Linked DNA regions of Homo sapiens: regions 1 and 2 are each linked to region 3. The links come from fine-mapping of genetic effects on gene expression. A gene starts in region 3. Each other region holds a variant in brackets. All regions are shown on one strand. Distances are from middle to middle. Region 1 overlaps ZNHIT1 (zinc finger HIT-type containing 1). Region 2 overlaps PLOD3 (procollagen-lysine,2-oxoglutarate 5-dioxygenase 3). Region 3 holds the start of FIS1 (fission, mitochondrial 1).

What was found. PIP is the estimated chance that this variant, and not a neighbour inherited with it, causes the effect.
Region 1: its variant is the best candidate, but not a certain one, in a credible set for the expression of FIS1 in aorta (GTEx, PIP 0.50).
Region 2: its variant is the best candidate, but not a certain one, in a credible set for the expression of FIS1 in lung (TOPMed, PIP 0.52).

Annotation. Positions count from the first base shown.
Region 1 is chr7:101,221,321-101,223,820 of GRCh38, reverse strand. ZNHIT1 (zinc finger HIT-type containing 1) reads right to left here. Exons shown (of 5, transcript NM_006349.3): 2 at 1,047-1,217; 3 at 265-344; 4 at 1-148. Among named protein-coding and RNA genes, the nearest start is that of ZNHIT1, 4.4 kb to the right of the region's middle. The variant G/A (reference allele first, on the strand shown) is at 1,236.
Region 2 is chr7:101,206,997-101,209,834 of GRCh38, reverse strand. It overlaps PLOD3 (procollagen-lysine,2-oxoglutarate 5-dioxygenase 3), which reads left to right. Exons shown (of 19, transcript NM_001084.5): 16 at 878-982; 17 at 2,111-2,257. Among named protein-coding and RNA genes, the nearest start is that of MOGAT3, 7.4 kb to the right of the region's middle. The variant G/A (reference allele first, on the strand shown) is at 1,339.
Region 3 is chr7:101,243,856-101,246,654 of GRCh38, reverse strand. It overlaps FIS1 (fission, mitochondrial 1), which reads left to right and starts at 1,574. Exons shown (of 5, transcript NM_016068.3): 1 at 1,574-1,695; 2 at 2,516-2,648. The coding sequence starts at 1,651. RefSeq lists enhancers at 1,551-1,790, 1,881-1,930.

The sequences.
Region 1 (2,500 bases), 23 kb after region 3:
GACAGCGCACAGTGCAGTACCGGGCACCGCAGCTGACACAGGTGTAGGGGGATGGGAAGCCACAGACAGCACAGAAGGGGCGCTGGGGCCGCGATGGGGGTCCCGCACAGGCCGTCAGGTAGTTAGGGCCCTCGGCCACACTCAAGTTCTGCAGAGACAAGGGGCCGGCTCTAGAACTCCTCCGCCCACCCACGCAGCGAACACCTGCCCGGGCCAGGCTCACCCCTTCCCTGTGGGGTCCTCCCAGGCCGACCCTCCTCTCACCTGCTCCTCCAACAGGGCCTGAAAGTTTTTTCGGAAGCGAAGTTTAAAATGATCACCTCGGGTTTTCTTCTTTTTCTTTCCTAGGGGTCAAGGGTGATCCGTTGCTTGGCACTTGCCCAGAAAGACAGCAGCTTTCTCTGGTTCATCACTCCCCATGCCCATGTGCCCTCCTGGTTCTTTTTGAGACAGTCTCACTCTGTCACCCAGGCTGGAGTGCAGTGGTGCGATCTTGACTCACTGCAACCTCCATCTCCTGGGTTCAAGTGATTTTCTTGCCTTGGCCTCCTGAGTAGCTGGGATTACAGGTGTCCACCACCATGCCTGGCTAATTTTGTTTTTGTATTTTTAGTAGAGATGGGGTTTCACCATGTTGGCCAGGCTGGTCTTGAACTCCTGACCTCAAGTGATCCGCCCACCTCAGCCTCCCAAATGCTGGGATTACAGGCGTGAGCCACCACACCTGGCCCTGCCCTCCTGGCTCTAAGTCGGCCCCTCGCTACCAGCCTCTGCCCTCCACCCCAATTCTCCAATCCCAGCTGACAGTCACCTCCATGCCCCCAAGCCTAAGGCTTCGTGTCAGAGCTTATCCAGTCTCTCTTGTTTATTTCACATACACGAGAGGAAACTGAGGCACAGAAAGGGGGTGTGGTTGCTCACAGCCATGGGAGCCAGTCACTGGCAGAGGCACCAGGAGCTCCTGGGTCCTCCCACAGCCTGAGTTGGGCGGACTCTCCCGCCCTCCTCTCAGTCCCATCCCCCGCTTCCTCCTCCATCCGCCTCACCAGTGTCCGCATCGTCATCAAACTGAGGCAGTCTCTTGCCGAGCTGAGGGAGTCCCGCGTGGGGGTCATCCTGGAAGTTGTCATTCTCCAGGGCCTCCAGCTGCCGGTTGATGCGACGCTGCCGGGCAGCCCGGTCCAGCACCCGCCGCTGCCCGGGGTCCTGGGAGCGAACTGGATGGAGCAGGGCAC[G/A]CAAAGTTACAGGGCTTCCAAGAAAGAGCAGTGTGGCCGCCGCTCTGGGCAGGGCGAGGAAGGCACCCGGGGTGGAAGCTGCAGCTCTCTGATCTCATCCCCATTGCCAAGCCCTTGGTCCCCTTGTCTCCTCCCGGGCCAAGCCCTGGGCCCACACTTCCTGTCCCGCCAGCTGAGACCCTTTCAGTTTCTCCTGCCTGTTTTCTCCGCCTTCCTCTCAATCCCAGTCCCAGCCAGTGAGCCCCGGCCTGGAGACAGCTCACTGCTGACTGGGGAGGTCACAGCGCCCTGGGGCTTCCAGGCTGTCCTGGGCCCTCAATACACATGGCCCTCACACTCAGCATCTCACCTCCTACCTCAAAGGAACCAGGGGCCACCCATGCTTGGATACGCTCATCTTCCAGGCCACCTACCCACAAACGTGATGCCAAGTGGGCACACCCCTGCCCTGGAGCGCCCCAAGTCCCACCACTGACCCCGAGCCTTCACCTCCAGCCCATTCCCTCCCTCTCCCATCTTCAACCCCTCCTCCTCAACCGGCACTTTCCATCAAAGAGCTGGCGACGCTCATGTGTCTACTCGGCTTCACAGCTCCTTCTCCTTCACAGCAACTCACGTGATGTGTCACTTTTTCACCTCCCATCCTCTCCTTGAACCCCAAAATCTGACACCTGCCTGGTCATCCTGGGGGACCACCCACCCACGCTCTGGGCCCCAGAGCGGCTCCAGTGTGCCTTCCTCCTCCTCCTTGGACCTGAGCCCTGTCCACCCTGTGGCGGTGCCGACTACCTTCATCGAGTAGAAAGAGACCCTTTGCTTGCTTCCTTGACAAAACTGCAGGCCTTCTCCATGTCCAGGAATCCTCCGGCTCCAGCTCGGCTGCTCTCCCTGCCTCTATGGAGGTGGCTGGCCCTCTTCTCTGCTCAGTCTATGCACTCTTCCTGGGATTTTGACTCCAAACAAAGGGCTCTGATGATCACCCACAAGCAAATGACTCCCAGAGTGACTCCCTCAACACAGAACCTGCTCCCGGGCTCCAGAACTGGCCATGCAGCCAGCGCCTGGTGAGGCCGGGTGTGGTGGCGCACGCCTGTAATCTCAGCACTTTGGGAGGCCAAAGGATCGCTTGATGCCAGGAGTTAGAAACCAGCCTGGGCAGCATAGCCAAACCCCATCTCTACAAAAAATTAAAAAATAAGCCAGGCGTGGTTGCACATGCCTGTAGTCCCAGTTACTTGGGAGGCTGCGGTGGGAGGACTACATGG
Region 2 (2,838 bases), 37 kb after region 3:
GCTCAGTGGCTCATGCCTGTAATCCCAGCACTTTGGGAGGCCAAGGTGGGTGGATCGGTTGAGGCCAGAAGTCCAAGACCAGCCTGGGCAACATAGCGAGAATCTGTCTCTACAACAACAACAAAAAAATTAAATAAGAAATGAGGCCAGGAGTGGTGCTCATGCTTGTAATCCCAGTACATTGAGAGGCCGAGGCAGGCAGATCACCTGAGGTCAGGAGTTCGAGACCAGCCTGGCCAACATGGCAAATCCTGTCTCTACCAAAAAAAAAAAAAAAAAAAACACAAAAATTAGTCAGGTGTGATGGCGTGCACCTGTAGTCCCAGCTACTCGGGAGGCTGAGGTGGGAGAATCGCTTGAACCTGGGAGGCAGAGGTTGCAGTGAGCCAAGATCACGCCACTGCACTCCACCTTGGGTGACACAGCGAGACCCTGTCTCAAAAAAAAAAGAAAAGAAAAAATTAGCTTGGCATGGTGGCATGTGCCTGTAGTTCCAGCTACTTGGGAGTCTGAGGCGGGAGGATCGCTTGAGCCCAGAAGGTCGAGGCTGTAGTGAGCTATGATTGTGCCACTGCACTCCAGCCTGGTTGACAGAGCAATACCCTATCTCAAAAAAAAAAAAAAGAGGTATGCACTGTTACGGAAGTTTGGAAACCACTGTCCCAGCACGAGGGGCTCCAGGACCCTCTGCCACCTCTCCTGTGCCAGAAACCGGTCCTCAGCCTTGCCACTCCCTCAGCCCCTACCTGGCGGGTCCCCGGCTGCTCTCACAAAGCCTTCCCTGCTCCTCCCTGCCCCTTCCCATTCTGCCTGCTGCCTGTCCCCTTCCCCGTTCTGCGGCGTCAGCTAGCCCTGTTCTCCCTCGCCCCATCCTCAGCCATGCCCGGACGTGTACTGGTTCCCACTGCTGTCAGAACAAATGTGTGATGAGCTGGTGGCAGAGATGGAGCACTACGGCCAGTGGTCAGGCGGCCGGCATGAGGTAAGGGCCTGGGCGAGGAGGGCAGAGGCCTTCCCAGAGGAGGAGGTGCAGGATCTGGTAAACAAACAATGGAATCAGGAAAATGGGAGCAAAGAGGGGTTCCCAGGGGGGAGGCAGACCCTGGGGTCACAACTGCATTCATTCATGTATTCAAGAAATATTTACTGCTGGGCACAGTGGCTCATGCCTGTAATCCTAGCACTTTGGGAGGCTGAGGCGGGAGGATTGCTCGAGCAGGGGGAGTTTGAGGCCAGCCTGGGCAACATAGCGAGACCCTGTCTCTACAAAAAATTTAAAAATTAGCCGAGTTTGGGCCAGGTGCGGTGGCTCACGCCTGTAATCCCAGCACTTTGGGA[G/A]GCCGAGGCAGGTGGATCACCTGGGGTCAGGAGTTCGAGACCAGCCTGACCAACATGGAGAAACCCCATCTCTACTAAAAACACAAAATTAGCCGGGCATGGTGGCGGGCGCCTGTAGTCCCAGCTACTCGGGAGCTGAGGTAGAATTGCTTGAACCCGGGAGGCAGAGGTTGCAGTGAGCCAAGATTGAACTCCAGGCTGGGCAACAAGAGTGAAACTCCATCTCAGAAAAACCAACAAATTAGCCGGGCATGGTGGCATGTCCCAGCTATTCAGGAGGCTGAGGCAGAAGGATCACTTGAGCCCCAGAGTTAGAGGCTGCAGTGAGCTATGATCATGCCGCAGTACTCCAGCCTGGGTGACAGAGCAAGACTCTGTCTCTAAAAAAAGAGAAAAGGAAATCATTCCTGGGCCACTGTCCTAGACTGCACTGCAGGAATGCCTCATGCCGGTCGAGCTCTGCCCTGCTGTGAGCAGCAGCCACCACACAGCTTCTAAGGCTGCGATGAGCAGCCTGGGTGCAATAGAAGCCACGGGGAAGCCTTGACCCAGACTTGGGAGGAGTAGGGAGCTTCACAGGACAGGTGACATCTTAGCTGAGACTTGAAGGGCCGGGAGCAGTGAGTCAGGCCGAGAAGTAGCAAAGAAGACTGTTCTGCACAGAGGAACACAGGTGTGAAGGCTGGAGGACGGGAGGAAGGAGGCTGGACTGCCCTGGGGTGGGGAGCGCCATGGCTGGAGGGGCGGGTGGCTCAGTGCCCGCCGCCCCCAGGATTCAAGGCTGGCTGGAGGCTACGAGAATGTGCCCACCGTGGACATCCACATGAAGCAGGTGGGGTACGAGGACCAGTGGCTGCAGCTGCTGCGGACGTATGTGGGCCCCATGACCGAGAGCCTGTTTCCCGGTTACCACACCAAGGTGCGCTGCCCACCTGCCAGCTGCCTCCCCACCTTCCCCACCCCAGTCCCGGACAGGAAGTCTCCACGCAGACCCCTTTCGGCCCCGGCAGCATTTGGGCTCCATGCATTTTAGTTCCCAGGGGAATGAGACGCTGCAGGAGGCACCCCAGGGGAGGGAGGGCGCCAGGCTGAGACCCAAGGTGAGGCTTGGCCCTAATTTAATGCCAGTGAGCAGCGAGAGCCTCCTACGCAGGGGTCCCGCCGCCCCTCCCCTCCCCTCCCTGGACAGGGACCGTCATCTCCCTGAAGACACCCTGCGATGGCCGGGCGTGGTGGCTCACACATGTAATCCCAGCACTTTGCGAGGCTGAGGTGGGTGGATCACCTGAGGTCAGGAGTTCAAGACCAGCCTGGCCAAGATGGTGAAACCTCGTCTCTACTAAAAATACAAAAATTAGCCGGGTGTGGTGGCAGGTGCCTATAATCCCAGCTACTCGGGAGGCTGAGGCATGAGAATTGCTTGAAACCGGGAGGCAGAGGTTGCAGTGAGCCAAGATCGAGCCAAGATCGCACCACTGCACTCCAGCCTGAGTGACAGAG
Region 3 (2,799 bases):
GTGATGGCCGGCGCCTGTAATCCCAGCTACTTGGGAGGCTGAAGCAAGAGAATCGCTTGAACCCAGGAGGCGGAGGTTGCAGTGAGCCGAGATTGTGCCACTGCGCTCCAGCCTGGGTGACAGAGCGAGAAACTGTCTCGGAAAAAAAAAACAAAAAACAAAAAACAACCTGGGTGTGGTGGTGCACACCTGTAGTCCCAGCTTCTTGGGAGACTAAGGCAGGAGGATTACAGGAGCTCAGGAGGTCAAGGCTGCAGTAAGCTCTGATTGTGCCGCTGCATGCACTCCAGCCTGGGCCACAGAATGAGACCCTGTCTCTAAAAAATAATAAAAATTAAAGGGGCTTTGCAAACGCGGAAGGTGTCTGGATGATTATCCCCTGCATGTGCAGTGCCTTGTTTACAATTAATTTGCTTTTTCCGTGTTTATTCAACAAATATTTATTGAGCCCTCACTCTCTGCCAAGCCCTGTGCTAGATGCTGGATAAGCAAGGTAAGTCTCTGCCCTCAAGGAACTTACACTCCAATGTGACTCAAGGGGAAAAGAATTTGAAAGTTGCTACTTACCCAGTCCCCTCACTGCACAGAAACTGAAGCCAGAGGTGTCCACACCTTTCTCCTTCCCATGCTCTGATAGCTCCTCACTGCTAAGCTCCCCATTGCCCGTGACCCCATGTGGCAGGTTTCCCGCCTGGGGTGCACTCCCAAAATGGTTTATGTAAATAATATTGAAAATTGGACCTTCTCTGCCAATAATGGGGCCGTTGCTTTTTGAAAAACTTCCCGTTGATAGTGTCTCCTATGACTACCCCTGTGTGGCTGTGTGGTTTACAGATCCAGTTGCCTCTGCTCTTGCATTGTGAGAGTCAGCAGAGGCCCAAGAAACCCCGATACTAGTTTGCTGCTGTTGGTGGGTTTTTTGAGACAAGGTCTCTGTCGCTCAAGCTGGAGTGCAGTGGCGCGATAACTCACTGCAGCCTCGAACTCCCGGACTCAAGCGATCCTCCTGCCTCAGCCGCCCCAGTAGCTGGGAGTACAGGTGCACGCCACCACGCCGGTTGATTTTTTTAAAAATTTTGTAGAGATAGGGTCTCGCTATGTTGCTCAGGCTGGTCTTGAACTCCTGGCCTCCAGCGATCTTCCCGCCGCGGCCTCCCAAGTTGTTGGGCTTCGGACGTGAGCTACGCGCCGGGCTCCCGGTTCTAGTTAAGATTTTGTTGCAGGCGATGAATAGTCACGTGGCCTCCAAGGTCCTAGATTTCTGAGGGGCGTCAGCTTGGCACCCTAATGTACTGTGATCTCTGGTCAGCTACCCACCCTCTTTTTGCTGTTTTCATCCTGGGGGCTAACCGCCAAGACATGGCCTCCAGTTTCCCTAGGGAAGCCTCCACAGAGGAAGGCACCGGCTGAGGCACCTGGGAAGACCAACCTGGGGAAGGTCTCCCTGCGCGCAGTCTGCGGGCTGGAGGGACCGGCCGAGCCTGCGCACTAGCGCCCCGCCGGCGCTGCTGAACTGAGAGGAAGGGGCGGGGCGTCGCCAGGTCGTGCCAGCATCCGCCGGACGCCGGAAGTGGTTCTCCGCCCCTGCCACTGGGCCATGGAGACTGTGGCACAGTAGACTGTAGTGTGAGGCTCGCGGGGGCAGTGGCCATGGAGGCCGTGCTGAACGAGCTGGTGTCTGTGGAGGACCTGCTGGTGAGGCCTGGCCCGGACAGAGGGAAAGGGAAGGTCGGAGGGCGGGTCCTGAGGAGAGTCAGGTAGGGGCCGAACCCTCCTCCCGGCATCGGCTTGGCCGAGGGAAGCCGAACTACGGCTCCCGGCAGCCTCCACAGCGCCTGGCTCCTGCCCGGAGGGCCTGCTATGCCGCAGAGGCTCCTGGGAGTTGTAGTGTCCTGAGCCCCCCACACCTCAGACTACGGGCCTGGAGCCCGACCGTGGTTAGACTGACGGGATCTGGGATCATGCAGGAGCTGTGAGCTCAGGGCGCTCCTCCAGCGGTGGAGGAATACAGTGACCATCATAAGGTGTCACCTATTACTGCGTCCGGCACGGTGCTAAGGCATCGCATGCCAGATCTCAGTCTTTGTAGCTCTAGGAGGTAGGCACTACTTCTATTCCTGGACAATAAAAGGTCCAGGCCCGGCAGGGTGGGGCAGGATGGGGCCAGCAGCCTCAAATGAGGACCGCGTGGGCTGTTGAGCAGTTCTGACAGCGTGTTTACTGTTCGGCCGCCGGGGTCAGCTGCTCCGGGAGCGGTGCCTGGAGCTGCCACCAGGTGGCATCTCCGCTCGGTACCGCCGCGGGGAGGGGAGACCGGGGGCCTCTGTCCCAAGAGCTGGCCCGCAGGCCCGGAGGAGCCGAAAGCCTGGGTCCCGGGCATGGAGATAGCAGAAGCTGGGGTGCCAGATACCGAGACCTGCGAGGGAAAGGGGCAGAGCCAGGGAGATGGCATGTCCAGATAGAGAATGGTTGACGCCCTACATTTCTAAATGATTCCTTTCCTCCCCTGTGGCAGAAGTTTGAAAAGAAATTTCAGTCTGAGAAGGCAGCAGGCTCGGTGTCCAAGAGCACGCAGTTTGAGTACGCCTGGTGCCTGGTGCGGAGCAAGTACAATGATGACATCCGTAAAGGCATCGTGCTGCTCGAGGGTGAGGCGCTGTACTCTCCCTTTCCCGCTGCCATCTGGGCTGCTCTGCGATGTGGGCCCCGTAGTCCAGGCACCTCTGAGTTGTCTCCGGTAGATTTACTGCACCAAGGGCTATACTTAGCTTGACGTCTCCCAGTGAACTTTTGGCTACT